6 separate regions of the Homo sapiens genome follow, and regions 1, 3, 4, 5 and 6 are each reported to be linked to region 2. The links are microRNA targets in miRTarBase. Many come from high-throughput screens and were not tested one by one. Region 2 holds a microRNA gene; each other region holds the end of a gene's coding sequence. Distances are from middle to middle.

What was found. Region 2 holds the annotated microRNA hsa-miR-218-5p (UUGUGCUUGAUCUAACCAUGU, at 3,119-3,139, opposite strand). A microRNA usually pairs through its seed, bases 2 to 8, with sites in the 3' UTR of a target mRNA and lowers its output. Matches are read on the target gene's strand: a 7mer-m8 pairs with bases 2 to 8, a 7mer-A1 pairs with bases 2 to 7 and ends in A, and an 8mer does both.
Region 1: miRTarBase lists CNDP2 as a target of hsa-miR-218-5p. Seed matches in the 3' UTR shown: 8mer at 4,477-4,484, 7mer-A1 at 1,770-1,776 and 7mer-A1 at 1,522-1,528.
Region 3: miRTarBase lists ZFX as a target of hsa-miR-218-5p. Seed matches in the 3' UTR shown: 8mer at 3,311-3,318.
Region 4: the mRNA of NHP2 is a reported target of hsa-miR-218-5p. The part of its 3' UTR that is shown has no 7-base or 8-base seed match.
Region 5: miRTarBase lists C11orf54 as a target of hsa-miR-218-5p. Seed matches in the 3' UTR shown: 7mer-m8 at 861-867.
Region 6: the mRNA of DKK2 is a reported target of hsa-miR-218-5p. Seed matches in the 3' UTR shown: 7mer-m8 at 1,149-1,155 and 7mer-A1 at 2,468-2,474.

The regions. Positions count from the first base shown.
Region 1 is chr18:74,519,756-74,524,825 of GRCh38, reverse strand. CNDP2 (carnosine dipeptidase 2) reads right to left here. Exons shown (of 12, transcript NM_018235.3): 12 at 1,372-4,827. The coding sequence ends at 4,758. Among named protein-coding and RNA genes, the nearest start is that of CNDP1, 12 kb to the left of the region's middle.
Region 2 is chr4:20,526,362-20,531,437 of GRCh38, reverse strand. MIR218-1 (microRNA 218-1) reads right to left here and starts at 3,163; the gene lies at 3,054-3,163. SLIT2 (slit guidance ligand 2) reads right to left here. Exons shown (of 37, transcript NM_004787.4): 16 at 2,339-2,489.
Region 3 is chrX:24,210,692-24,215,767 of GRCh38, forward strand. ZFX (zinc finger protein X-linked) reads left to right here. Exons shown (of 10, transcript NM_003410.4): 10 at 1-5,076. The coding sequence ends at 685. Among named protein-coding and RNA genes, the nearest start is that of ZFX, 64 kb to the left of the region's middle.
Region 4 is chr5:178,145,488-178,150,563 of GRCh38, forward strand. It overlaps NHP2 (NHP2 ribonucleoprotein), which reads right to left. Exons shown (of 4, transcript NM_017838.4): 4 at 3,976-4,351. The coding sequence ends at 4,226. RMND5B (required for meiotic nuclear division 5 homolog B) reads left to right here. Exons shown (of 11, transcript NM_022762.5): 8 at 627-792; 9 at 2,046-2,148; 10 at 2,242-2,396; 11 at 2,482-5,076. The coding sequence ends at 2,545. Among named protein-coding and RNA genes, the nearest start is that of NHP2, 5.9 kb to the right of the region's middle. RefSeq lists enhancers at 561-855, 950-1,059, 1,180-1,229.
Region 5 is chr11:93,760,984-93,766,059 of GRCh38, forward strand. It overlaps C11orf54 (chromosome 11 open reading frame 54), which reads left to right. Exons shown (of 9, transcript NM_001286069.2): 9 at 532-3,766. The coding sequence ends at 705. Among named protein-coding and RNA genes, the nearest start is that of MED17, 21 kb to the right of the region's middle.
Region 6 is chr4:106,919,759-106,924,834 of GRCh38, reverse strand. DKK2 (dickkopf Wnt signaling pathway inhibitor 2) reads left to right here. Exons shown (of 4, transcript NM_014421.3): 3 at 135-290; 4 at 631-3,033. The coding sequence ends at 881. Among named protein-coding and RNA genes, the nearest start is that of DKK2, 110 kb to the left of the region's middle.

The DNA.
Region 1 (5,070 bases), not on the chromosome of region 2:
CACCTGAGGTTGGGAGTTCGAGACCAGTGTGACCAACATGGTGAAACCCCATCTCTACTAAAAAACACAAAAATTAGCCGGGCGTGGTGGCGTGCGCCTATAATCCCAGCTACTCAGAAGGCTGACGCAGGATAATCGTTTGAACCCGGAAGGCAGAAGTTGCAGCAGTGAGCCGAAATCGCACCATTGCATGCCAGCCTGGGTGACAGAGCCAGACTCCATCTCAAAAAAAAAAAAAAAGAGAAAAGAAAGTCAGTAGAGACAGAAAGTAGATTAGTGGATGCTTGGGCCTGAGGGAGATAGGGTGATTGTGTGGGGGAGGTGATAGGTTACAGGTACTGGGTTTCTTTTGGAGGCAATGAAAATGTCCTGAAATCAACTGGTGATGGTTGTGCAACTCTGTGACTATACGAGAAGCCACTGAATTGTTCACACTAAACAGGCGGATTGTTTGGTCTATGAATTGTAACTTACCAAAGCTGTCAACAATAAATCACCATGGGGGAAACCGAAAGGAGAAATGCTGAGACCTCAGTGGGAAAGGCGGGAGGCCAAGTGCACACCAGGAACAACTGGCCTCCTGCCATGGAGGGGAGGGCATGAGTGTCCCCCAGCGAGGGGAGGGGAAGAGGGGAAGGCCTGGGTCCCAAGGCTGCCTCCCAGGAGCTGAGTGATGGCAGGCCATCACAAGGTCTCTCAGGCCTGTCCCCTCTATAGCACAGGGAAAAAACCTCCTATTTCACCGGGATGCAATGAAACATTAGACAAACATCTTTAAAGCCCTTTGTAACATGAATTCTATAAATAGTAATGAACGAATCCTTTGGGAAGAACTCTAACTCCCCCTAAAGGTACTGTCAATCATTTTTCAAAGGGAAATGATCCATAAAATTGGCAGCTCCTTACTTGGGTGACACAGTAGCAATTTTCCTCTTCAATGTCAGGCAGCAGATATTTACTTTCTCACATTTTTCCATTTAATACAATTTCTTGCAACTGTTAGGCCAGTAGATAGTGTGGACATAAATCTATTGTTGCCCTTCTAGAAATATTCAAATAATTTGTATGTGAATCTCCAGACCACCGTTGGATTCATGGACACTTTTCAAAGGATGTTGTCTTTTCAGTAAATAAAAGAGTTTGATAATATAATGTTTAAAGGGCCAAGTGACTGCAGTTTTCAATGCCTCTTGATGTATGAAACACCTTTCTCTAAAGGACCTAAGATATATCTGCTTTTTGAATAAAAATTAGAAGTGACATTCAGAGAAAGTCTTTTGTTTTTAATAAATTTCAATATTCCTATCATGTACCATATTGTAGTAGTCTGAAAAAAACTTTAGACTTGCTTTAAAAAAAACTGGTCCCATATTACACCAGCTGAAACAACAGTATTTATTTACCACGCCTGTTTCCCACTTGAGAAGATCCAGCTCCATGCATGAGTGGGAACCGTTCTTCATACTTTGCAAAGGGGTCACAGGGTCATTTCTGTCTTCATAACCTCTCTGGGAAAGTGGTTTGTGCTCTTCTGACACAGGACGCTGAGGCTCAAGTTCACAGAACCAGCCGTTAGTCAGACCCATTCAGTCCAGGGTTTTACAAAATTGTTGTTTACATCAAAACCAGCTAGTGGCATGCCAGCTCAGCTTCTAACATAAAGCAGTCTGGACGTGTGCAAATGTCCATGCCACCCCACTTAGGCATTTATCTGATCATGGGCCAGGCTTGGGTCGGGCACTGGGAACGTGGAGCTGTCGAGATTGCCCTTGTGCTCCTGGAAATTCCACGAGGGACTGAGCTTGCAGAGATGGAGGTGAGCATTGGCACTTTACCCAGGAGTCATCGGCCTTCTAGTAGAACACCACTCTGATTTCCTCCGGGAGATCACCCTCCGCTAGCACTTCCAGAGGCGACGACCTCACACTTGCTTCCAGGGGAAGCTGACTGGCCTGAGCCACACAGGCTGCTGCACGTGTTAGCACGGTGACCGCCGCAGGCTGCTGCAGGTGTTAGCACGGTGACTGCCGTAGGCTGCTTTTTGCTGCTGTAACACAATGCCCAAGACTAGGTAATTTACAATGAGCAGAGATGTATTGGCTCAACGTTCGGGAGGCTGGGAGGTCCAAGGTGGAGGGACCGGAACCTGGCAAGGGCCTTCTGGCTGTGTCATCCCACAACACAAGGGCTCAGAGAGGGGTAGAGAGAGCAAGAGGAGGCCAAACAAGCCCACTCCTACAATAACAGCATTCACTCAGTCAGGAGGACAGGGCCCTCATGGCCTGACCAGCTCTTGAAGGCCCTGCCTCTTAATACTGTTACAATGGCTATTAAGTTTCAACACGAGTTTGGGAGGAGCCAAACATTCAAAGCATAGCACCTCTCAGCATGGGTTCCTGACTAACGGGGGCCCATATGCAGCTCGCATGCATGAGACACCAGCAGCTACTCTTAGGATTTCTGGGGGAAGACCATGCAGTTCTTTTTGCAGGATTAGAAGCTGAAAGAATGCATTTCTCACAGTTCTGATGGAGGAGTTGAGTTGGAGCCACAAGCCCAGATAGCACTGAGTGCTGGGTCCAGCTGTACCTGAAGCCGCTACCCTTGTCTTCTTTTTTTGTTTTTACTTTGAAATGACAGGAGACTTAGAGAAAAGATGCAAAAGCCATAGAGGGTCCCCAGATACACTTCACCCAGCTAACCTCTTATGCAGCTACAGCACAATGATCAAAACTAAGAGATTAACATCCACGTAAAACCAACTACAGATTTTCCTCACATTTCATCCGTTTGGGTTTGTCTGATGTTTTGTCACGATGAGTGTGATGTTCCCAGAACTGGCATGTCCTCCTCAGGGAGTGGTGTTGGGGGTGCTGATGTGGACGTGTCATTACTGCTGAGGTTCATTTTGATCTGAGGGTGGTGCCTGCCAGGTCTCTCCACTGTGAAGTTACTGTTTTCCCCTTGGGAGGTGCTTTTAAGCTAAGCAAATATCCCGTTCTTTAAACCTTTGCCTACCAATTTGAGAGTGTGTCAGGGGTCTCACCTGCAGCAGCAAGTGCTCCAGCTTTGATCTCCCACCTTCCTCCCACATGAGCAGAGATTCTTCATCCAGGGGCACTGGTCCTTCTCACCCACTTTGTCACTTTATTTATATTAGTATGGACTCATGGATTGTTGTTTATTCCATGGTAAAAATCCAACACTACTGCTATTTTCTCACTCCAATTGCTCCCCTGGGCCCCTGCAAACTCTTCCAGGCTGGCTCCTGTGTCCTTGGACGCAGCCCCACGCCCTCAGGAGCGCATCCTTACGTTCCGATGTGAGAGGGTCCAGACTCATCTTGCATCTTCCCTGCCCAGCCCTGGAACCAACCACTTCAAGGAGCCTTTTCCTTTCATTGAGTTTACTCTGTTCTTTTATGTCAAGTGGGCCAATCAATTCTTTGTTTAAGCCAGCTGGACTTCCTGTGGCCCCACAGCCGTTAAGGAGCAGAGACAGGGACACTTCTCGGAACATGCAGGGGGCCACGAGTGAGCCTCCACTTGTGTGGACGAGGGAGGGAGTGCTCGCCTGGGAAGACCTGGGTTCTGTTTTCCGGGTCCTGCCTGCTGTCCCCTGCCCTGAGCTGACACCACCAACCAGACACCACTCAATAAGCATGGTGTGCACGCGACGAGCAACTGAGATGGAGCGATTCTTTTAGAGGTGTCATGTTTACTTTTTATTTAGGAGTACAAACTGAGACAAAATCATCCTTCCAGTTAGTGAGGTTTTGAGGGATCATACTAAAGAGAAGACAGGAAAATGCCAGTAATGGTGAAGGTCTTGAGAAAAGGACAGGACCCGCAGATAGCGAGAGATCAGAGGAGGCCCTAATTTCTTTCCTCATTTCCTTTCCAAATATCCCAAATGTGCAATGCATCACCTGAGACAGAAGGCAGAAAGCATCAAGCTCTCTGTTTATCCCAATTCAATGACAACCAGAACTTATTTTTTTTGAGATGGGGTCTCGTTCTGTCGCCCAGGCTGGAGTGCAGTGGGGCATTCATGGCTCATCGCAGCCTCCAACTCTCAGTCTCAAGCAACCCTCCTACGTCAGTGTCCTGAGTAGCTGGAACTACAGGCATGCACCACCACACTTGGCTCATTTTTAAAAAATTTCTTGTAGAGACAGGATCTTGCTACATTGCCCAGGCTTGAGTGCCGTGGTGCATTCACAGCTCACCGCAGGCTCAAACTCTTGGTCTCAAGCGATCCTCCTGCCTCAGCCTTCTGAGTGGCTGGGACTACAGGCATACACCACCATGTCTGGCTCATTTCTTAAACTTTTTGTAGAGACAGAGTCTTGTTTTGTTGCCTAGGCTTGTCTCAGACTCCTGGCCTCAAGTGATCCTCCTGTCTTGGCCTCCCAAAGTGCTCGATTATAGGTGTGAGCCGTGGTGCCCGGCCGACAACCAGAACTTTCCGCAGACCTTGTGCTTTTGGACCTTGGGTATCTTCTGCAGGTCAAGCCATCCTGACCACTCTGAGAACTTACCCAGGGTGACTCAGCTGTCACTCCAGGTCACTCATAAGCCCAACGGGTAGCTCCACCCGTGGACAGCTGGATACACTTGTGTCTGTTCTCTAAAGTCATGGATGACCTGACAAGAGGGAAAGGAAAGAGGGAACCTCCACTTCCCTGGGCAAGTTGGAAAAGGGTGAGGTGAGGGCAGGATTCCTTCTCATTGGAGATGGCACACAGAGGGCTTGGCCTAGTCCTTCAGCTGGGAGACCTCATACAGGTACGCGGCCAGCATCTTGGTTCCCTCTATGTAGTTATACCTGGTAGAGAGGAACACATCATTGTGTTGGCTGGTGTCGTGAGCCAACACCCAGGTGTGGGGTGACTCCTCCCGAGCCCAGACACACTCTGCCTTCTTCCTGGGGAGCATCCCCCATCCCAGCTTGGGGGCCCTGAGCCCTGCTTGCCTTCAGAATTCAGCACCCCGGTTCTCAAGTGCAGCTTCAGTCTGACTGCCCAGCCCAGAGACCAATCCTGGTCCCCTAGTGCCCCGGTAGTAAACG
Region 2 (5,076 bases):
ACTTTTTGCTTTTACTAATTTTCCTAGTCTGGGCATTTTGCATAAACGGAATCATGTAAGATGTAGCCTTTTCTGTCTGGCTTCTTTTGCTTTGTGTAATGTCTTATTCCTGTTGTAGCATATGGCAGTGCTTCATTATTTTTTAAGACTGAATGATATTTCATTACACAGGCATGACACATTTGTTTATCCATTTATCAGTTAGGAGGCATTTGTGTTGCTTCCATTCTTTGATGGCTATAAATAATGCTGCTATGAACATGGTGTGCACGTTTCTGCCTGGATATATGTTGTCGTTTTTTGGACATATACATAGGAGGGGCATTGCTGGATCACATGGTAAATCGTGATTAACTCTTTGAGAAATAGCAAAAAAGATTTCCATAGAAGCTTTACATTCAGACCAGCAATGTATGAGGGTTTCAATTTCTTCCACTATGTTACTCTCCCTTTTTGTTTTTGTTTTTTTTTTTTAGCCATTCCAGTGGGTCTAAAATGGTATCTCATTGTGGTTTTGATTGGAATGTCCCTAATAACTAATGATATTGAGCAGTTTTTCATGTGTTTATTGGACATTTGTATATGTTCTTTGGAGAAAGGTCAATATGAATAATTTAACCATTCATTAGCTGAGTAAAATACCTTTTAATCTAAATTATAAGAGTTCTGTATATATTCTGAATTATGTGCCTTATTAGATACATGACTTGCAAATATTTTATTCTCAGTACTGATTTTATTATATAATTAAAAAAATTATAAATCTCTTACATTACACACATTTGCTGAAGTCTAAATTGGAGGCTAGTTTCCACTATAATTCCTCCATGACAAACAAACTTATTTAAAGTGCTAGGCCAGGGGCAGTGTCTCATGCCTGTAACCCTGGCACTTTGAGAGGCAGAGGCAGGAGGATTGCTTGAGCTCAGGAGTTCAAGACCAGCCTGGACAACAGGGCAAAATCCCATCTCTACAAAAAGTACAAAATTAGCTGGGTGTGGTGGTGCATGCCTGAGGTCCCAGCTTCTTGGGGAGATGGGGGTGGGGGACTGAGGTGGGAGGATCCCTTGCGCCCAGGAGGCCAAGGCTACAGGGAGCTGTGATTGTGCCACTGCACTCCTGCCTGGGTGAGATAGTGAGACTCTGTCTCAAAAAAAAAAAAAGTACTATTGTGCTGGAAGGTATCACTTGTTTGTAGTATTATAGGTAATAAGCATAAATCCCTATATGTCTATAAAAAATAAAGTTCAGGGCCTTGGTTGCATGGACTCCATGCATTTCTAAAATTCCTGGAGCTGTGAAATAGCTTCATCAACTAATAGGAGTAAAAAAAAAAAAATCACTATAACTACAAGATAGTGGGTTTCTGTCAACTCTTTGAAAGGCATTACTTTATTTTTAGTTATTCAAATTGCTAAAAATTAATTAAGTACAGGCATGAGTATAGGCACAGTGAGAGATAAACAATAACACACAATCCCTGTCATCAAGGAGCTATAATCTAGTTAAAGATGGAAGGATTATATACAAACAAACAGACAACGAACTTTGCAAAGCAGTAAATGACAAATACCAGATGGTGCTATATATAAACATGGCTAAGATGTTTAGAGAATGATGAGGTTTTGCTAGTTTTTTCCCTGAATTGTTAGAACACTAACATTAAAGGTCCTCTTCTTATAAATAAAGTCAGTAAAGGCAAACCATGCATGGGCATAGAATCTGTAAGTGCTCCAACAAACACCTTAGCACTTAGTATGTGCAAGGTCCTATGTTAAGGCTGTTAAGTGTAAATACCATCATATTCTGCCTTTTCAGCTTTTCTTGCATTGTTCAGAAAAAGCTATCCTTTCTACTTTAATACTTGATAACCACTGAATCCTTCTGCCCGTAAGTCAATGAAGTAGTAAATTAGGTAAGACAGACTCCTTGAATCTATTGATAGTTTACAGAGATTGAAAATGGAGGCTCTCAAACTACTTTATTTAGTTGCTATAAGAATTAAATACGTTAAAAACTAAGTACTTAGAAAACAAATTGGGAATAAATAATACCCAATAAATAAGCATCAAATAAATACCATTGTTATTAGTATGAAGTGCTTACTGAATTTTGAGAGATAAATTAGTTTCTGTACTTAATCGTATGGTTGGCTAGAAAGATGAATGAAGGTAGCCTCTAATATATTCTTGTACAAAATAGAGTTATGCCAATGTAATGCATATTAATTAAAATTAATGCAATTATTAATAATAAAAATGGCAAGACAAACATTCTTATGCTTTAATGCTTTCATTCCCTCCATCCCAACCAGAATTTTGTTGGGGGATGAACTTACAACTCTGCAGTGTACTGGGGAATGTGCTCCGGGATTTTGTTGAGCTTTTGATTAGAGCAATCTACTGTGGTTCCTTCACAGCGACACTTTTCAGGGCAAGCCAGATCCGCAAAGCAGTCTCCACTTAATTTTGATCGATAATCTTCTGTACCTATTGAGAATTCAAACCAAAAAAAAGATACTGAGTCTAAAGGTTAGAAAATTTATTAGTTTGTAGGAAGAAAAAAGTAAGATAACTATAGATTATGTAGCAGGGAGACAACTTGGGGTATTTTGGTCAATGGATGTCAGGAGAAAGGTTAAAAGAAAGGCTTGGAATTTTCTGGAAAAAAGAGTGACCAGATTCACATGACAGGAAAACATTAATAAAGTTGAGCTTTTCACAGCTGTACTTTCTGCTGATCCAATTCTGAGTCATTCTAGCCTACTTCACAGCTAGTCACACAATGGATATTAATTATTAAAAAGTTTATTTTTTTTCTCGGAGTCAAGAATTGAAAATATATCCAGTAATAAACATGATCCTATATCTCATTGTAAATTAGGGCTTTCAAGGCAAATAGATATACTCAGGCTTTTAAATTTTCTATGGACTTTTTACTATTCTCTCCCTCTCACATAATCTCGGAGATGCCTAAAAAGCCCTCTTTTTTCATTTTGATTTTGTAGAAAGAGACAGGAAAATCCTGATTTAAGCCTCAGCAGCTTGTCATGCTGTAGAAAGCTGCGTGACGTTCCATGGTGCTTGACGGAACCATGTTTTACTCATACCTCGCAACCACATGGTTAGATCAAGCACAACAGAAAATCTCGCTACATTATCACTACACCAACCACTAGGCCAAAGGTAAGACCAAGAGGAAAATGGAGGGAAGGAGGAGAAAAGCTACAGACGTTCTGGAAACGTAATACTGTTTACATGACATGCATTCTTCCCGCAGAATGTTTATGACCACAGTAAGAGTATTACTACCGATGATTTCCTGGAAACACAAAGAAGGGGCTATATGGAAAAGGTGCCTCCACCATTCCTCAGAACTGCAGAATGGAAACAACAGCTTTCGGGAACAACATCCAGGAAGAAGTTGAAGGTGAGCTACAAGGACAACAGAGAAGCTCAAAAGATCTGTGGTTTCTTCTTGAAAAAAAGGTGCCAAAGACCAAGACTAGAAGAAGGTACATCAGGATTGAAAAGGGAGGGTATTATGTTTCAGATCAGACACTTTTACTTACAGCCAAAATGGTGAATTCCTGCAAAAGTAAAGATCACCAAGAAGGAAAGAAAGAGTAATCCCAATTAAGATTAATATACATATTTATAAAACTAAGCTCTCTTCCTTCTTTCTTTATTATGGGAATTATTGAAAAAATAGCATGATGTGATGGGAATTGTCATGCTTTGTAAAATTTTATAAATAATATTTTGAAGCACGGTGGTCTCACAAGAAAACCAATGTAATAAAAGATGCATAGTGCAAATTAAGTTCTTGATTCCTTTAAAAGATGAACTCTCAAGGCCGGGTGTGGTGGCTCACGCCTGTAATACTAGCACTTCGGGAGGCCAAGGCGGGCGGATCACAAGGTCAGGAAGTCAAGACCATTTCACCTGACGGGTGAAAACCCATCTCCAGTAAAAATACAAAAAATTAGCTGGGCATGGTTGCGGGCGCCTGTAGTCCCAGCTACTCGGTGAGGCTGAGGCAGGAGAATGGCATGAACTCGGGAGGCGGAACTTGCAGTGAGCCGAGATCATGCCACTGCACTCCAGCCTGGGAGACAGCGAGACTCCATCTCCAAAAAAAAAAAGATGAACTCTCTGCAAGACAGATTTTCTTTTATCACTGTAATATGTAGAGTGCCATATAAAATGGTAGTAGCGAGGTACACACGTAAAAGTGAATGAAAAACTAATCATGGAGATCCTCAAGGACAATCATTACAACATTTGGATTAATCCTTATGTTGTGATGTACACTTTTTAATGAACTTTTCAACTTATAAATAATGTGTCTTAGTGGAAATGGAATCAGAATCTCATAAGAAGTTTGCGATGGTAAATATAATCGTTTCATTACATTTGGCAGTTAATGCCATGATATTTACTGAGGATCTGGTGTCTTATGATTTATGCTTCACTCCAAAATGAAATAAGAGTGCACAAAGTCTAAGTGACAGGTACACTGGATATCTTGCAATTCAAATAATCTGCATTCAACGGAACAGTAATAATGCTTATTTTATGGTGGCTTGTTAGGTGGACTCAAATTTTAATTAAAATTTTTGGAAAAAAGGGGAGGAAGCCCAAATGATCCTTTTGAGTCCTGGCTTCTACAATTATCATGTTTAAAGAATGTAAATTAAATTATCATAAATTGAAACTTAAGACATGATATTTGATATAAAAGATAATTTCCAAATCCTATTTTGGCTGCTGTCAGTAACAGGGAAAAACTATATCAGAATATATGAAAACAACCTGACTTTTGTTCTTTATTTAGTGAATTGGAAATATTAAACTTACCAATTATTAATTAAGTATATTTAAATGAAATAGTTTGAATAATTTGATACCAATTACATTACTGCCATAATTTTAGGATTTAAATCATATTAATGTTTTATTCTATAGGTAGTCTGGTGTTTAGAATATGGCTTTTTCTGGTTAAATAATAGCTATCAGATTACTTTCCACTTAATTGGGTAAAGTAATTAATATTAAACATTGTCAATGAAGGCCA
Region 3 (5,076 bases), not on the chromosome of region 2:
CCAGTACTGCGAATATAGGTCTGCAGACTCTTCTAACTTGAAAACGCATGTCAAAACTAAGCATAGTAAAGAGATGCCATTCAAGTGTGACATTTGTCTTCTGACTTTCTCGGATACCAAAGAGGTGCAGCAACATGCTCTTATCCACCAAGAAAGCAAAACACACCAGTGTTTGCATTGCGACCACAAGAGTTCGAACTCAAGTGATTTGAAACGACACATAATTTCAGTTCACACGAAAGACTACCCCCATAAGTGTGACATGTGTGATAAAGGCTTTCACAGGCCTTCAGAACTCAAGAAACACGTGGCTGCCCACAAGGGCAAAAAAATGCACCAGTGTAGACATTGTGACTTTAAGATTGCAGATCCATTTGTTCTAAGTCGCCATATTCTCTCAGTTCACACAAAGGATCTTCCATTTAGGTGCAAGAGATGTAGAAAGGGATTTAGGCAACAGAGTGAGCTTAAAAAGCATATGAAGACACACAGTGGCAGGAAAGTGTATCAGTGTGAGTACTGTGAGTATAGCACTACAGATGCCTCAGGCTTTAAACGGCACGTTATTTCCATTCACACGAAAGACTATCCTCACCGGTGTGAGTACTGCAAGAAAGGCTTCCGAAGACCTTCAGAAAAGAACCAGCACATAATGCGACATCATAAAGAAGTTGGCCTGCCCTAACAATACTTCTACAGAACGTTTGTAGAGATATTGGCCTTGAAGCAGAAAATTCATTTTAAAGCCAATCAGTCTCATTCACATACAATACTGTATATTGATTTATGCTGTGTACAAATAGAATTATTACTTCTAGTTGACTTTTTTTTAAATATACATTTTGCTCAGTAGTGTGTTCTGAATTCTATTCAGTTTGTTTAATAAATAGGGAAAACTGGCAACATGCTAGTTACTTTTAATAAAGTAATCCCTGATTCTATACCGAAGTTTTATATCTTAGAATTTTATATTTATTTAAATATTTACCTTGCTTACCTTGATGGTACTCTTCTAAGACCATTAACTTAAGGTAACTTTATATTGGTAACTCTGAAAGTATTCATGTTGACTCATTTTTTTCCCCATACATTTCTCACAATAAAATTGTCAGAGACATCTACTAATATAAATGGGAGATTTTACAGTCAGGTCTAATTATCATAACATGGAAGTCATTTACTTGTCTTGCTTAATATTTTCAGACCACTTGACAGTGAAAGTTTCCATTTGAGCTGTTGCGTCCCTGGCTTTGCTGAGTAAAGAGCAGTGGCTGGGTTCGTGTTTACTTTTCAAATATACTTCTTTTGGCTTTCTTTGGATTATTTACATCTTTTGTCAGCGTAGCAAACTTTTAGAAAACCTTATTGAAAAACTGTGCTTGCTCATGTTGTATTTTGATTATTCTGTCTGTGCGGCTTCATCTTGGAATGGTTGTGTGCTACAAATGACACTTACTGAGGACTGCATTTTGGAATCTCCTAGAGGTAACTCATGGCTTATAGGATCTTTTGCAACTTTATGTATGTAAATGTACCCTGAATTATATATATACACATATATATCATGTACCTGTGTGTATTGCTTATTTTACATATTTATACACACAACCCCAAGTAGTAGTTGTTTAAAATCTATAATGAAAAGTATTAAATTTACAATAACATGAAAGATCCAGGGATGCATGAGAGAGCATTTTGTAAGTCATGCTCTTCAGAGAGACTACTCAGGTGAAGAATTAGAAGGAAAATAAGGACACTAGTATTTTTAAAGAGTAAAGATATTTTCTTTTAAATATCTTTGGTAATTGAAACATAGAGGTTAAGATGTTTCTAGGTAGAATGTTTTCATACAATTTCACCTCCATGTCTTTATGTTTTTCTGAAAAGCAAATGAGTATCCAGACATGACTCCCACAGTTCTCTTTGAGAAGCCTGAGAGGGAACTCTGTCTTACCTAGTGAGGGGGATGGAAAAGAAGTGATGGCTCTGTGGACCAGAGAACGGGTGCTAATTATGACTTCACACTCGGCAAGTTCAGGCTGATCTGTTATTTCTCAGTTACAGTTAGCAAACTTTAAAAACTTAACACTCAAGTTGGCTTTGATTAAAAGGTAAAGATGTGTTTTAAGTGGATAAGGAAAGTCTGAGGCCTTATTTGGAACATCACTAAGTCTTCCACAGGTTTTTTGTTTGTTTGTTTTTTTTTGTTGTTTTTTTTTCTTAAGACGGAGTCTTGCTCTGTTGCCCAGGCTGGACTGCAGTGGTGTGATCACTGCAACCTCTGCAGCTCACTGCAACCTCTGCTTCCTGGGTTCAAGCAATTATCTGCCTCAGCCTCTCGAGTAGCTGGGATTACAGGCGCCCACCACCACGCCCGGCTAATTTTTTGTATTTTTAATAGAGATGGGGTTTCACCATCTTGGCCAGGCTGGTCTTGAACCCTGACCTCGTGATCCACCTGCCTCGGCCTTCCATAGTGCTGGGTTTACAGGCGTGAGCCACCGTGCCCAGACACCACATAGGTCTGAATCAGTGTCATACATTCATAAAACAAACTCGGTTAATTAGAACTTGGTTATGTTAAGACGAATCTGGGAGAACAGAAAACAGTTTTTGGGGTCCCTTCAGTTGGCTATTGGTCCGTATGCATCTAGCACATTGTAGGAGATTTAGAAATTGTCTTCCCACCCGATAGCTGCCTTGTCACCTCATTATGGTGCTCCATCCCCTGTGTGCTTAGGTTTTTACCTTTCATCTTTCTCTTTGCCATTGATGTTTGTATTCAAGAGTTATATTTTTAGGGTTAGAAATCAAAATATTTGGTGTTTGGCAAACCTCTGAAGTGCTAGACTGATTTAGTCTAGTTTTAAACCAAGTGCTTTAGGCAGGTGTGAACTCCAGCCCAAATGCCAGTCAAAGTCAAGGCATGGGTTTTCCTAGCCTATCTTATAGGAAATTCCTGTACCTTCTTGGCCCCCATAATGTGTTTTTTTTTTTTTTTTTTTTTTAAACTAACTTACAATTTTGTGATCCGTGATTCATTGCCCTGCGATTCTTGAAAGCTCTGTCTGTTTTTTTGTGAGAACCTTTAAAATCTCCCTTAATTTTTATTTTCCCAGAAATAATGTAAAAACACTTAAATGAAAGTGGAAATGTATTAATTTTAAATCCTATAAAATTAATACAGAAAATATAAATGATTGGGTCATTTAACTATATTTTTTTAAATAAACTGAAAGATAAAGAACACAACACTTCACACATTTTATATTTCTCTTACATACTCCGGAATCATACACAGTTCTTTTTAAAGCACAACATTAAAACCTTTAAAAGGTATTTAAGGGTTTGGTCAAGTGAATATGATAAAACATACTTGTCTGTATAAAGAGAAAATGAAATTGTAGTCACTGTTATGTACTGACATTAGTTACAACCTAGTTTTAATTCTTAAAACAATTTTGATTAGCAAAGCTAAAAAAAAATGGATGTTTCAGTTAAATGTTTTAAAGAGGTACAGATTTTTACAAGGACATAATATAAGTTATTGTTCTGTAGAAATATCCTATTAAATATTGTATGTCCCTCCCTCTGTACACTTTGTAAAGAAAGTAAAATACATAAAAAGAAAATCATATAGGGATGTGTGACATTATTGTAATTGTGTACTTGAGAATAACGTGCAAAAATAAAAATCAGAATATTTTCCTGTTATTGAATGTTTAGTCTATTTGATACCAGTACTAAGTTAATGCTTTTTCTCAAGGAAAAAAAATGTACAGTTTTTGTAAACCTAATAAACATCAAAAGCAGTGGATTATTTTCATCCCCCCATTTCTTAATTTCTTTTTCACAGCAGTGGAATGCAAAGTGCTTGATTGCTTTGAATTTTGTGACTCGGATGCAAATACTGGTAATATTTCAGTTCTGTGAATTTGCAAGTAATATTTCAGAGAAGTTAAGAGGTGATTGGTGAGTCCTTTGATGAGCATGTCCTTGGAATTCATTTTTTCTTTTATCTTCATAAAGGATTTGTTTTATTAGCATCTCCAATTCCCCTGAGATAAATTACTCATGCATAAAGTGGTTTTTGAGAGCACTTAAAGTTCATTTCAGTATTAATTTACAGCATATTTAATCAGTGGGGACTGTTACCACCTCCACAACAGAAATCATGCCCTCGAGTTACCCCACTGCGCCCAGTTTAGAGGACTAGTAGATGCTAACATACTAGGGAATGGTCATTGCCACAGTTAAAAATCGGCAGTTAAGTAAATGTCAGGAGTCAAAAGAGATAGAGTTGTGCCATCTTTGATTTTATAGACAAGATTCTGCAGTTCTTCCAACTGTATGAACAAACGTTTGCCTAATAGTTGAAACAATAAATTAAAATTTTAGGTAAATGACGAAGGGAATGTGGTGAATGTCACTGTCCAGAGCCATAAATCAGACAAAACCATACATAGCATGCTGAAAAACTTTTGTAATGGAACACCCAACAAATGACACCTAACCTGTCTGTGATCCAACAAGTCCGATAACATGCTGCTGTATTTGTATTCTCTGGGAATCTCAGTATTAATAATTTCATTTCCCACAAATTCTAGCATTCATGTAAGGAAAAACATGGCTAATCAATATCTTAAAGGGGCAATCTTTCAGAGCAGTGGTTTTCAAAGTATGGCCGGACAGCATTGGCAGCATCTTAATCTCCTGGGACTTTGTTAAAAATGCAAATTCTCAGCCCCACCCTAGTCCTACTGAATTGGGAAACTGGCGTGGGACCCAGCAGTCTTTGTTTTAACATGTTCTCCAAGTGATTCTGATGCCTGTTCAAACTTGGGAAACACTTTTAGAGCACTTGAGGAACCTAAAAGATGACTGGTTCAGCATTTTGTGTGGTAGATAAGAAAGAAATTATCACAAAAAATCAGAAATGAACAGTGAGAGAAAAATAGGACCCCAGACAGTTTATACCTTCCATTTGCTGTTTTAAAAGTGTGAGCCTGCCAAGTCAACAAGTATGCCTTTAGCGCACATGTAAATAGCCTGCACTTCCTAAATCTCGTGTGGCCT
Region 4 (5,076 bases), not on the chromosome of region 2:
GTCTCAAAAAAAAAAAAAAACACACAAAAAACACACACACCAAAAAAAACAAGTGCCTGACACCACAACCACGTCTGGCTAACTTTATATATTTTTTATTAGAGACGGGGTTTCACCATGTTGGCCAGGCTGGCCTCAAACTCCTGGCCTCATGTGATGCACCCACCTTGGCCTCCCAAAGTGCTGGGATTATAGGCATGAGCCACCACGCCCGGCCCCAAAACATGACTGAAGTTTTAGCTAGATACTGCTGCCTGTTGAAAGCTCTTAACCTGGGGTTGCTCTAAATGGAGATTAGTGTGGAGACACCAGTGCCAACCTGAGGACTTATTTGATCCTTGATGCAGTGGGGGAGGAAAGAGAACTGGAAAAGAACTGTCCTCATTCCTGATTCTGTGTTAGTAATGCCTGTTCTCATCCTGCAGAAGCAGCCTGGACCTCCACCTCCCCAGTGGATTTTACAGTCAAATTTGCCTGAGGGCATTTTCATCCCTGCTCAGTCTCCTCAGGGGCTTGGGAGCCACCGGGCTCAGCATATTGTGCTGTGCTGCACAGTCCTGCTGCCCGCTTGGGGGTGGACCCAGAGCCCTGCACCCCCTGAGCTGCCCCCTCTGGTTGCCTTGTAGAGATCCAGGTGATGATGGGCAGCCTGGTGTACCTGCGGCTGGGCTTGGAGAAGTCACCCTACTGCCACCTGCTGGACAGCAGCCACTGGGCAGAGATCTGTGAGACCTTTACCCGGGACGCCTGTTCCCTGCTGGGGCTTTCTGTGGAGTCCCCCCTTAGCGTCAGGTACAACCCAGCCCTGTGAGGGCAGCACAGGTGGGAGGGTAGAGAGGTAATCATCATTTGCCAAGGCCCTGCCATGTGCCAGGAACAGTGCTCGGTGCTTTCAGAGACCGAAACTGGCTTTCTTAGTCATTCTTCAGGAGAGGAATTACCTGTTTTTACAGTTAAACTGAGACTAGGAAGAGTTATGGCCCGAGGTCACCATGAGGTCAGTGGCATGGTCAAGGTTCCCATTTTGTAAGGTCTCCTGAATGAGGTCCCTGCCTCTCTTGCACCTCACCCTGGATCATTGCAAGACCTTCCCAGCTAACCCACGCCCCTCTGCAGCCCGCCTTCCTCATGACCTAATGTCTTAAACACCACTTGCCTTCAGGGGAGATGTGAGTGGTTGAGTAATATGTATTCAGCACTGCTGCTGACACCTCCCTCAGAGCTCCCAGCAACCCTGGGAGGGAGAGCCACGTTATCCTCCTTCTACAGATGAGGAAATGGAGGCCCAAGATGTGCACGCACTTGCCCAAGGCCTCGCAGGGAATAATGGGCACTTGAACCTGACCCCAGAGCCACACACTCCGCCACAGTGGACAGCTGTCACTGTGTATTTAGACTGTTGATGGTGTCTGAGTACAGCACCTCAATATAGTGGACTGATTCTACGCTCATCTGATTTGTTACCATGGACTCAGTTTATAGAACGTCATTTCCCAGCAAGAACAACATCAGCACCTTAGGATGATTCTGTTGCGCAGGACTACCCTGTGCACTGTGGGGTATTCAGCACCTGAGGTTCCAGCCAGTAGGCTCCCTTCCCCATGCAACTGTCACGAGAAGGGAACCCCAACCTCCATTTGTTAGGCGGCCTAGTTGATAGCCACCATTATAAAGATGTGTTATGACTACACAGCAGGGTACGTCCTACAGGCAGGCTGGGGCCCTTTGGAACTGCTCACTGTTCCCTAGTCACACCAAGGACTTTTCAGTCATTAGGATGAGCAGATATCTGCCCCTAGAGCTATAGGAAGTCTTCCCTGTAGGTTCTCAAATTTTGGGGTGCATTAGAATGAGTCTGTAGAGTCAGACATACATAAGTACATATGTGACATCTTATGAACAATGTGAGGGATCTTTGAGGACCGATTTGACCGTGCACCATTTTAGAGCCCTGTCTCAAGGTCCATGCTGAAGCATGGCGCGCTGGCCCTTTTTGCCTGTCTGCTGTGATCTGAGCCACTCTAGCCCCTGTTCCTTGTCTGCAGCTTTGCCTCTGGCTGTGTGGCGCTGCCTGTGTTGATGAACATCAAGGCTGTGATTGAGCAGCGGCAGTGCACTGGGGTCTGGAATCACAAGGACGAGTTACCGGTGAGGCCTGGTCTGGGGAATCGTGGGCAAGAGGTACTGGGGAGGACAGCCATGACAGGAAGTGGAACTCACCCGCTTCGCTGCCCTTCCCAGATTGAGATTGAACTAGGCATGAAGTGCTGGTACCACTCCGTGTTCGCTTGCCCCATCCTCCGCCAGCAGACGTCAGATTCCAACCCTCCCATCAAGCTCATCTGTGGCCATGTTATCTCCCGAGATGCACTCAATAAGCTCATTAATGGAGGAAAGTAAGTTCCCCGTGCTCTACTCCACCTTGGCTTGGCTCTCCTACTGGCCACCCCTGAGACGTTCTCGGTTCTCCTCCCTTTGCAGGCTGAAGTGTCCCTACTGTCCCATGGAGCAGAACCCGGCAGATGGGAAACGCATCATATTCTGATTCCTACCTGGAAGGAATTTTGTTGAAAGGGGTTTTCACCTGTGAGCCTTGGTCTGTCTCGGTAGGGTGGTCAACTTCAGTGGACTGTGGTTGGTTTCAGAGCGCCTGGCTGAGGAGTTCCACTGAGGGGAGCACTGGAGCAGCCCTTTGGCAGAGGCTGAGGAGGGAGATGGACCAGCCCACGCCTGGCACCTGGCTCCATGGCATAAGGAAAGGGAGATGCTGGCCTCTGTGCTCCTGCTGTCTTTTCCTGTTTCTGTTTGCGTTTGACTTAGTAGCAACCGACAGAGTGGCAAGGGATTTGGTCTTCAGCAGTAGACATCCTTCCACCCCTGCCCTCAGCCAAGTCTCTTGCTGCCATGCCAATGCTATGTCCACCCTTGCCCCTCGGCCCAAGAGTGTCCAGCGGTGGCCCACCTCTTCCTCCCACTACAGCCTCAACAGTATGTACCATCTCCCACTGTAAATAGTCCCAGTTAGAACGGAATGCCGTTGTTTTATAACTTTGAACAAATGTATTTACTGCCCTTCTCATTTCTCCTGGCCAACCTTTAGCCTCACTGACAAATTATGACCACATGTCTACCACACACAGGGACTGGGCACGGCCTGGTGGCTGCCGCAAACAAAAACATGGCCAGCAGGTATCCAGTGTCCAGGCAGGAAGAACACAACTTGCATCCCTGACTGCGGGGAGCTTAGATGTCAGACCCCGGGCAAGGTGCTTTTACATATACCCATACCAGATCTTACTAACTCCATAGGAGAAATCCGTGTAATGGGATTCAGGAAAATGAAGTAACTTGCACAACAGGGCTCACAGCTTAGAAAGGAGAGAGCTTGGAGTTTTAACCAGATCTGACCCTCAAGCCCAAGCTATTTCCAGTTTATTCCAGGGTGCCTGAACTTGGCTGTTATGTATACTGAGTCCTGTGCAGGGCCTCTGACAGCAGGAAGGGGCCCCAAGTCTAAAATACTTGAAGGGATTGGGTTACTAGGGCCATTATGTTAAGCAAGAGAGCTCGGGGGAATGCATTTTAGCTTCATATTCCTATTTAAAATGTGCTGTGTGGGTGGGTAAATTGCTTCCATAAGCTTCACAGTGGCATTTAAGGCTCCTGGGTTAAGTTAGGAATGGGGGTGTTCCTGATGTGGGGGCTTTAGGCTTCCATGAAGTGGGTCTGGGCCCCCTGCCTTACCTCACAGCCCCCATCTACCCTGGAAGAGGGAGTTGAAAATGCTGGGATAGCAGCAGGATCAGTTCTCAGCTTGAGCCAAAGCACCCGGCCCTGGGCAGCTGAGCATCAGCACAGAACCCTCTGAGTCCTTTGGGCTCTCTGCTGAGGAAGACTGCTTCACTCTTCCCGCCCACCAACTCGCTGGCCCAACCAGCAGCTGCTGCTTAAGAAAACACCCACAGACTCACCACATTTTAGTCTTAGCATTTACTTTCCCCACCCCACATTCTTGGAACAGCCTTTAGTTCTACAGGAAATGGCACTGATGGACAGAAGACTAGCATTACCTTCATGAAAGGGCTGTTAGAGCTGCCTGGGAAGAAGGCGTGCCTTGGGGAACTGGGAAGATGCCGTCAGTGTGGGTGGGCAGGAGGACAGCCAGTCGTCCTGCTGCCAGCCCAATAGCTTCCAGCGGCAGGTGCCCAGGTGCTACCGGAGCCCCTCATAGGGGTAGGGGCAGGGACTGCACCTCCTCCAGGCACTCATCGTAAGCCTCCTGGTACTCCTCATGGGGCTTGACCATTATCACACAGGTGGGGCGCTTGGAGCCTGCGGCTGCACCCAGGTCCTACAGAGGGGAAAGAAGTGCTGTTTGGAAAAAAGCTGTACAACCTGTATGCCAGGAAGTCACCAACTGATGACCCACCAGCCTAATCTGGCCCACAACCATGTTCTGTTCGGTCCATGTTCTATTTAAAAGCATCTTGAATTGGTTGCCATCATTTAAACTCAATCAGACTTTGAAGGCATGGTCCAGCCACACAGGGCCTACATTCCCACATGGCAACTATGAAAGGGCTCCAGCCCAGCAGGGGCTGTCCCGGTCCCTGCCACCCCCACTTCCTGTGCCTCAGATCTGGCCCCTGTTACGTAAGATAAGGACAGCTACAGGTCCCTCTGAGCCTAAACCCACCTAACCGGACTAACATGGGTGAAGCATCTTAGCTTACAAAGCTCTTTCACATACATCTATCTCTTTATTCTCATAGTCCACAGATAACTGACTATTTGGTTCTTACCATCAGGCCAAACGGTAAGTTCCTTCAGAACAGGGCCTCCTGCTTTATCCCAAGAAGTGATACTGTAGGTACCCAAGATCCACCCCCAGCCTCTATTTTTTTTTTTTGAGACAGGGCCTCACTCTGTCATGCAGTCTGGAGTGTGGTGGTGTATGATCATGGCTCACTGCAGCCTTGAACTCCTGGGTTCAAGTGATCTCCTGCTTTAGCCTCCCAAGTGGCTGGGACTACAGGCATGTGCCACCACACCCAGCTAATTAAAAAAATTTTTTTT
Region 5 (5,076 bases), not on the chromosome of region 2:
CATGCCTAGGATATTATACTTAAATATATGCATAATTGTGTAAAATTACTAGTTAAAAGGTTATTATTACAGTATTGTTGTAGTAGCAAAAGAATTAGAAATAATGCAAGTGTCAGTTGAGAAGTTACATACGCAATAGAATACCATGCAGGTATAAAAGAATGAGGAAGCTCTTTTATGATTTCATATACAAAGATCTCAAAACTATATTGTTACATGAAAAAAAGTTACATGCAGAAAAGTGTGTACAAAATACTACATTTGAGTAAAAATAAAAGTAAGTATTTATGGAAGGATATACAAGAAAATGCTTACACTGGTTACCTGCTAGGAAGGGGAGTGAGTGGTGAGGGCAAGAGAGAAGAAGATACATTTTACTGAATACATCGTTTTGCCCCCTTTGAATTTAGAACATGTGAATGTATTACCTATTTAAAAAATAAAAACTATTGCAACGTAAAAAGTTATCCCTCCCCCTTAAACTCTAATCAATAATTTGAGTACTAACATATTGTTTGTCTGTTATCTTAGGGGTTTGATTTGCGACTGGAGCACACTCATTTTTTTAGTCGTCATGGAGAAGGTGGACACTACCATTATGACACTACTCCAGATATAGTGGAATATCTTGGATACTTCTTACCTGCAGAGTTTCTCTATCGCATTGATCAACCAAAAGAGACGCATTCAATTGGGCGAGATTAAATCAGCTGATACTTATTTAGAAAAAGAAATAATTAAGGTTAATTAATTGATTGACTTATTAATTAATACTGATATAAAACCAATAGAAATGATCCCACAGGCCAGGCACAATGGCTCATGCCTATAATCCCAGCACTTTGGGAGGCTGAGGCAGGAAGCACACTGGAGCCCAGGAGTTTGAGACCAGCTTGGGCAACATAGCAAGACCCTGTCTATTTTTTTAAAAAAGTAAAAAATAGAAATTATCTCACTACTTAAATCCCATTTTTTTCACTTCATATGAAAGAACATATTGATAGTATATTCTATATTATTTCATAGATCTGTCTGAAAGAGATTGGGAACAAAAATATCTAATTGAGATATTCTTTAATTTTTTACATAGCAGCTTTATTTTTTTTATTCTGTAGTATCAGCGAAATCAGTCATGTTTATACCTTGAATATAAATATCAGGAATCATGCAATTATTTCTACTATGTATTTAGTAGTATCTTATATTTGTATAACATTATTACATTTTGCAAATTAGTATCACAACTGCTAAGTAGATGTTTCTGAGTATTAGAAAAATCAGTGTTATTACCTGCAGGATATTAAAAAACATTTGAAAAAGAGAAAAAGAAAAATCAGTGTTTAGAAATGTTGATAGTTATTGAATCTTTGAATTGAATTTTAAAAATCCATTCTAGTAATCAGAGTATACTTTTTTTATAGAACAAGGTGGCAGGTGGGGAGCCCTTTACCCTTCTGGTGAAGTTAAACCATAGAAGTTTACAATTTGCCTTTCACAAACATTAGCAGTCCGGGCATGGTGGCTGAAGCCTGTGATCCCAGCATGTTGGGAGGCCGAGTGGGAGGATTGCCTGAGCCTAGGAGTTTAAACCAGCCTGGGCACCATGGTGAGACCCCATCTCTATTATTTAAAATGTTTCTTAAATAAAAAAAACACAAACATTAGCAACTAGTTGGCTAGCCATAATTCCTCCCTTGTTTCGATTGCCAGTTAGAAGCAATTTTTATTTCACTGGTTATTTGCAAGAGAAGGGGTAAAAAAACAGCATCAGAGTGCAACACTGAAGTGAGCTTACTTTAATTTGTAAGTGAAGCTGTTGCTGAACATGACCACTATCGTTGCTGAAATATAAAATTATACTCACTGATTGTAATGGTTGAAATTTTCCTGAATAATCATTAGCCAAAGATCAACTCTCTAATGGTGCTAATGGCAATCTAGCTAATGTGCAAATTTAGGAAGTCTTCAGTACTAAGTACATAATTTTCAAATAATATTTTTTAATTGTCTACTTTGGATGTTAGCTATGTCTTGTGAGTATAAATTCCAATTTTAAGCACTATTTTGATGCAAAAAAATGAATAAAAAATTTAATTTATGATATGTTTGTAATATCTTACCTCCAGACAAAATAATATTAATAGTCTATCATTTAACAAATATGTATTGAACACCTACCCTTCTCTCTGGAGTGTACACTTCATGTGGGCAAGGGCCTTGTTCACGACTGTAGCACTAGTGCCTTTAACTGCTAGCAAAGTAGCCACTCGGATGATTATACCAAACACTTTACTAAAGCTGGGGATCTGTCTAGTGGGGAAGACAAACAATAAATATATAATATGTCAGGTGGTATTAAATGCTATGAAAAGAAAGGAGTAGATGGACTGTAAAGGAGGATGCTATTTTTTTGTGGCCATCCCGCACTGAGACAGGATGCATTCCACACTCAAAATTTGGTTCACATGTCCAGACTGATAGCCAAGTTCAGTGGCTCACGCCTGTAATCCTAGTACTTAGGGAGACCAAGGCAGGAGGATCACTTGAGGCCAGGAGTTCAAGGCCAGCCTGGGCAACAGAGAGAGACCCCCATCTCTGCAAAAAAAGAAAAAAAATTTTTTAATTATCTGGGCATGGTTGTGCACACCTGTTGTCCCAGCTGCTCAGGAGGCTGAGGCACGAGAATCACTTGAGCCCAGAAGTTGGAGGCTACAGTGAGCTATGATTGTTTCATTGCACTGTAGCCTGGGCAACACAGTGAGACCCTGTCTCAAAAAGAAAAAAAAAATGACTGATGAAGCCACACACACACCAACAGAGTATGAAAGGGTTGTTACTCACATAATGAAGCTTTCTGGGGAAAGCAGGGCAGCTCCTAAGCAGGATTTGACAACAGGGAAGGAGACTGACTTGGAGTTTTTTGGTGGTTAGGGAGTAGGGCCAGAGTGATGTTTCTTGCATGTGGTTTGAATTTCCCACTGGTATCAAAGAAGGAAACACCCAGGCTTGCTTGCTTTATTTTTTTAAAGAGATGGTGTCTCACTATGTTGCCCAGGCTGGGCTCAAGTCATCTTCCTGCCTCGGCCTCCCAAAGTGCTGGGATTACAGGCATGGGCCACCATGTCTGGCGAGCACCCAGGCTTTCTTAGCTTGCCAGAGGTGTAGGGCATAAGGGGACGAGGGGTGGGATAAGGCTTAAAAGCCACCAGCAGTCAAACATAAATTAAGTCAGATTCTTAATTACAGATTTCAGATCTGATTTCAGATCAGAGCTTATTTCAGGTCAGATTCCAGGTGTAGAGATCATCTGAAGCAGTCCTGGGCCTCTTCACACTACAGATACCAACACTGCCTTTACTCTTCCATTAGTGTCCTCCAAAATGGGGTGCATGGACAGCAGGTACACATGACCTTCCAAGGGGTGTGGGAATATTAGAACATCTATTTATATATTTTATTTCGTCCTTTTAAGTTTCTGTGGTTTTGTGTACATTTCTTACGTTAGGGATTTCAGTTCAAAATTGTATTGCTGATAGACACAATTCAAAAAGCTTGGAGACCAGGTACATTCACACCATCTAATAGAGATGGGGGAAAAGATCAAAATGCTTTTCTTTTTAAATTTTTTCTTAGTTTTCTTTCTTTATAGAGACAGAGTTTCGCCGTGTTGGCCAGGCTGTTCTCGAACTCCTGGCCTCAAGTGATCTGCCCGTCTCAGCCTCTCAAATTGCTGGGATTACAGGCATGAGGCACTGCACCTCACCCAAAGTGCTCTTCTTACTCTTACATTCACTCAGTATAACACAGAAAGCTTCTGTGACCAGATGCATGGGGGTTTTTCCCACACACCAAGCAATTCTCCAGCAGACATCAGCTGGGGGTCCTATAATTTAATTCAATTCTAACACTATTTACTTGGAGATAGCGTCAGATCCCACAGTTTAATGGTTCAATCCTCCAAGACTGCCTCCCACTTCCGATGCCAATCACAAGCTTCAGGTTGTGACCTGTACTTTTGACCAACCCACTGTAAATCGGGGTCTCTATGCCTACCTCTTCAGGTTTGATTAATTTGCTTAGAGCAGATCACTGAACCCAGGGAAACACTTTACTTATATTTTCCAGTTTATTAATAAAGGATATAATAAAGTATACAGATGAACAGCCAGATGGAAGAGATGCATATGGAAAGGCCAGCAGAAGTCCAGAGCTTCCACACCGTTTCTGGGTGCCCCACCTTCTAGGCATGTCCACCTGTTCAGCAATTTGGAAGCTATCCAAACCCTTTTCTTTTGGACTTTGGCTTTGTTTTTGTTTTTGAGACAGGTTCTCACTCTGTCACCCAGGCTGGAGTGCAGTGGCATGATCTCTGCTCACTGAAACCTCTGCCTCCCAGGCTCACGCAATCCTCCCCTCTCCGCCTCCTGAGTAACTGGGACTAACAGGTGTGCGCCATGACGCCCAGCCAATTTTTGTATTTTTCGTAGAGACGGGGTCTCATCATGTTACCCGGGCTTGTCTTGAACTCCTGGGCTCAAGTGATCCACCCGCCTCTGCCTTTCTTTTGGGATTTTATAGAGGCTTCCTTATGTAGGCAGAATTGATTAAATTATTGGTCACTGGTGATAAGTTCAACCTTCAGCCTTTCCTCTCCTTCAAGGTTGGTGTTGGGGCTGAAAGCCGGAATTCTTTAATCACGTGGTTAGTTCCTGGGCAAGGAGCCCCTATCTTGAAGCTATCCAGGAGCTTCTGGCATGCAGAAACCCACTTATCACTGTCATTTCATTAGCATACAAAAAACCATTTATCACTTTGGAGATTCCCAGGGTTTTAGGAGCTGTGTGCCAGAATACTGGGACTAAGACTATCTATACATACTGCATATCTTATTATACATCACAGTGTCATACCATCTTTCCAAACCTAAAATAAGAACACAGATAAACCTAAAGAATTGTCATCCAACCAGGTGCAATGGCTCATGCCTGTAATCCCAGCATTTTGGAAGGCTGAGGTGGGAGGATTGCTTGAGCCCAGGAGTTTGAGACCAGCCTGGGCAACATAGTGAGACCCCAT
Region 6 (5,076 bases), 86 Mb from region 2:
GAATGGATGGGTGGATAGATAGATAGATACACAGATAGATAAATGGCTTCATATTTCACATCAAGAGAGTATGTGGATAAGTATCACATTTCATAGAATTGAATTAGTCTAACTGATTATATGATCATCTCCAGGCATCTGTATCCCAGTTACTGAAAGCATCTTAACCCCTCACATCCCGGCTCTGGATGGTACTCGGCACAGAGATCGAAACCACGGTCATTACTCAAACCATGACTTGGGATGGCAGAATCTAGGAAGACCACACACTAAGATGTCACATATAAAAGGTAGGGATATCTGTAGTTCTGGGGTTTTTTTAAAATAAAGAAATAGAAGAAAAATATAGATAATTAATTCCATTGGTTTTAGAAAAAATTACAAGGAAGTTTCTTTAATCCTAGCTAGTCATTAAACTTGTTATTTAGGTGGCAAATAATGGAAACAGACCATAATAGATTTATGTGATAAGAGGCAGAGCCAATTGGTATCAACCAAGACTTTTCATTATAAATGGTAACAACATAGAAGATAGTATAAGTAAAAATATTTTATGTGCTTCTGATTGCAAAATAGAATTTTTTTTTTCTGAAGTGTCAGGGTAACATCTATTGGTCATCATCTCTGCAGGGCATGAAGGAGACCCCTGCCTACGATCATCAGACTGCATTGAAGGGTTTTGCTGTGCTCGTCATTTCTGGACCAAAATCTGCAAACCAGTGCTCCATCAGGGGGAAGTCTGTACCAAACAACGCAAGAAGGGTTCTCATGGGCTGGAAATTTTCCAGCGTTGCGACTGTGCGAAGGGCCTGTCTTGCAAAGTATGGAAAGATGCCACCTACTCCTCCAAAGCCAGACTCCATGTGTGTCAGAAAATTTGATCACCATTGAGGAACATCATCAATTGCAGACTGTGAAGTTGTGTATTTAATGCATTATAGCATGGTGGAAAATAAGGTTCAGATGCAGAAGAATGGCTAAAATAAGAAACGTGATAAGAATATAGATGATCACAAAAAGGGAGAAAGAAAACATGAACTGAATAGATTAGAATGGGTGACAAATGCAGTGCAGCCAGTGTTTCCATTATGCAACTTGTCTATGTAAATAATGTACACATTTGTGGAAAATGCTATTATTAAGAGAACAAGCACACAGTGGAAATTACTGATGAGTAGCATGTGACTTTCCAAGAGTTTAGGTTGTGCTGGAGGAGAGGTTTCCTTCAGATTGCTGATTGCTTATACAAATAACCTACATGCCAGATTTCTATTCAACGTTAGAGTTTAACAAAATACTCCTAGAATAACTTGTTATACAATAGGTTCTAAAAATAAAATTGCTAAACAAGAAATGAAAACATGGAGCATTGTTAATTTACAACAGAAAATTACCTTTTGATTTGTAACACTACTTCTGCTGTTCAATCAAGAGTCTTGGTAGATAAGAAAAAAATCAGTCAATATTTCCAAATAATTGCAAAATAATGGCCAGTTGTTTAGGAAGGCCTTTAGGAAGACAAATAAATAACAAACAAACAGCCACAAATACTTTTTTTTCAAAATTTTAGTTTTACCTGTAATTAATAAGAACTGATACAAGACAAAAACAGTTCCTTCAGATTCTACGGAATGACAGTATATCTCTCTTTATCCTATGTGATTCCTGCTCTGAATGCATTATATTTTCCAAACTATACCCATAAATTGTGACTAGTAAAATACTTACACAGAGCAGAATTTTCACAGATGGCAAAAAAATTTAAAGATGTCCAATATATGTGGGAAAAGAGCTAACAGAGAGATCATTATTTCTTAAAGATTGGCCATAACCTGTATTTTGATAGAATTAGATTGGTAAATACATGTATTCATACATACTCTGTGGTAATAGAGACTTGAGCTGGATCTGTACTGCACTGGAGTAAGCAAGAAAATTGGGAAAACTTTTTCGTTTGTTCAGGTTTTGGCAACACATAGATCATATGTCTGAGGCACAAGTTGGCTGTTCATCTTTGAAACCAGGGGATGCACAGTCTAAATGAATATCTGCATGGGATTTGCTATCATAATATTTACTATGCAGATGAATTCAGTGTGAGGTCCTGTGTCCGTACTATCCTCAAATTATTTATTTTATAGTGCTGAGATCCTCAAATAATCTCAATTTCAGGAGGTTTCACAAAATGGACTCCTGAAGTAGACAGAGTAGTGAGGTTTCATTGCCCTCTATAAGCTTCTGACTAGCCAATGGCATCATCCAATTTTCTTCCCAAACCTCTGCAGCATCTGCTTTATTGCCAAAGGGCTAGTTTCGGTTTTCTGCAGCCATTGCGGTTAAAAAATATAAGTAGGATAACTTGTAAAACCTGCATATTGCTAATCTATAGACACCACAGTTTCTAAATTCTTTGAAACCACTTTACTACTTTTTTTAAACTTAACTCAGTTCTAAATACTTTGTCTGGAGCACAAAACAATAAAAGGTTATCTTATAGTCGTGACTTTAAACTTTTGTAGACCACAATTCACTTTTTAGTTTTCTTTTACTTAAATCCCATCTGCAGTCTCAAATTTAAGTTCTCCCAGTAGAGATTGAGTTTGAGCCTGTATATCTATTAAAAATTTCAACTTCCCACATATATTTACTAAGATGATTAAGACTTACATTTTCTGCACAGGTCTGCAAAAACAAAAATTATAAACTAGTCCATCCAAGAACCAAAGTTTGTATAAACAGGTTGCTATAAGCTTGGTGAAATGAAAATGGAACATTTCAATCAAACATTTCCTATATAACAATTATTATATTTACAATTTGGTTTCTGCAATATTTTTCTTATGTCCACCCTTTTAAAAATTATTATTTGAAGTAATTTATTTACAGGAAATGTTAATGAGATGTATTTTCTTATAGAGATATTTCTTACAGAAAGCTTTGTAGCAGAATATATTTGCAGCTATTGACTTTGTAATTTAGGAAAAATGTATAATAAGATAAAATCTATTAAATTTTTCTCCTCTAAAAACTGAATTCAAAGCTCCTTGTCTTTTGTCTACGGGAAGAATTTTCATAGAATCATACTTTCTGAGAGTTCAACTGGACTTGGTCTGATTTTGAGGACTGGGTGTGAATCATTTGGAGGACATCAGCATGAGATAACTCAGAGCAGTTTACTATTACAAAAGGTAGTTTATTTCTTGGCAGTTTAGCTGTAATTGTTAGAAAGTTGTTTCTGTTTTTTTTTTTTTTTCCAAACCAAAATATTCCAGCTTGTGATTTACACCCATTTAGTCATATTTTGCCTTCCAGAACAACTTGGAACGAGAATATGCTCTTCACAAATTCTTCAAAATACTTTAAGACAGGTAACATATACCCCATAATCTTCTCTCTAGGCTAAAGTTTTCCAAAATGGAAATACTATTATGCTTAGAGTATTGGTTCATTTCTACATGAACCAATGAACGTGAGCTACACGATACCTTTTTCTGTGTTTGGAGAGAAACTGAGTGAAATCAAATCCACTTCCTGGGAAGCAAGTCTTTCCTCTGCTTCCTGAACCAGAGATGTCAGGAGTGTTTTGAGGAATAGTGTTCACCAAGTATGAGCAGGGATGCTACAAGAGCCCATGTTTTATTAGACATCAGAATGGGCTGCATATGTGGATAATAAACATTCTGTGACATAGTGAATGAATTAAATGTAGCTATGGCTGCTTCATGAAGCTAAAACAGTCCCACAGCTAGAAGTTAGAGTTAAAAATACCTTAAGCATTGCTGAAATACTTTCCACCATATGTTAATTAGTCATTTAAGGATATTCTTAAATCATTGGCCATTTCCTCAAATTGAGAATATTTATATTTTCTAGTTAAAGTGTGCTTTTGACTATAACAATCATATAGGCGATCTTTTTCTTTTCTATTGTGCTCAGTGAGATGCTCTGAGAAGTGACAAATTGTCCTGACATTTTTTTTTTTTTAGTTAAGAAATAAAATACCCTTAAGTAGCCTTAGTATTTTAGGGGAAAACATTCAGTTACACTTTTGTAAATGTAATTGTAGCCTTAGGATTTTAGGGAAAAACGTTCAATTATAATTGTCTTCACTCAAAATCAGGCCAGTTGAAAAACAGATTTTTTTAAAAAATGGGCAAATGAAAGATTACTCTATTGCTGGTGAAGCTGATATTGAAAAATGTAGCATATACCTGTGAGCAAGAAGACATTCTAACACTAAACACCAGAAATAGATTCTGTGCCCATTCACATTCAACACCAGACTATATCAGTTCCATCTTATGGGAGCTGCCCTGTAAAATTTATAATATGGATGGGCAGAACAGAATGACAGGCCTCCTTCTGGCAGTTAACACCGAAGATGAAGTGGGTGGAAAGTGGGCTGAACTATGCATTTCTCATTCAAAAATCTCATCCAAAATTTTCCAAAGCTGGACAATTTGTACTACATGAAAGGAGTGAGTGAGGGGTGGAGTGAGACAAAGATGATCATTCCATGCCACATCGAACTCACTTTAAAGATTGAGAAAGAAGAAGCCCTCCTCATATCCTTCCCCAGATATTTTTAACCCATTGTGCATACCATTTGTCTATGGTGAAGATATGAGTTTTAGCCAAAATCTGACCTGCTACCTCCTAGGGGAAGTGCCTGATGAAGTCTTTTTTCCTAATGACATCCATTTCTTCTTTATGGATCCTCTCAGGATGTGGTGTGGTGGGAAATTTAGCTGTTGTCCCCAGGAGCTAGCAAAATGTATGAAAATAATACATTAATTAAATAAACTTCAAGACCACTCTATATCCAGGACTAGAAAATAATTCTCTATTCTTTTAACTGCCCCAAATTATATCCATCATGTCATCTAACACAGTCTATTAGGGATTTTGCAGTGAGACTAAATGATGCATTGAGTATATGATAATAAAATATGTGAAAGCATTTCATTAATAAAATTCTAACAATGCAGAGATGCCCCACCTTTGAATATAAATCTTCTTCCATTGAAAATTTCTTAGGGAGAAAGTAAAGGACAAAAATTAAATCCTCTTGCATGT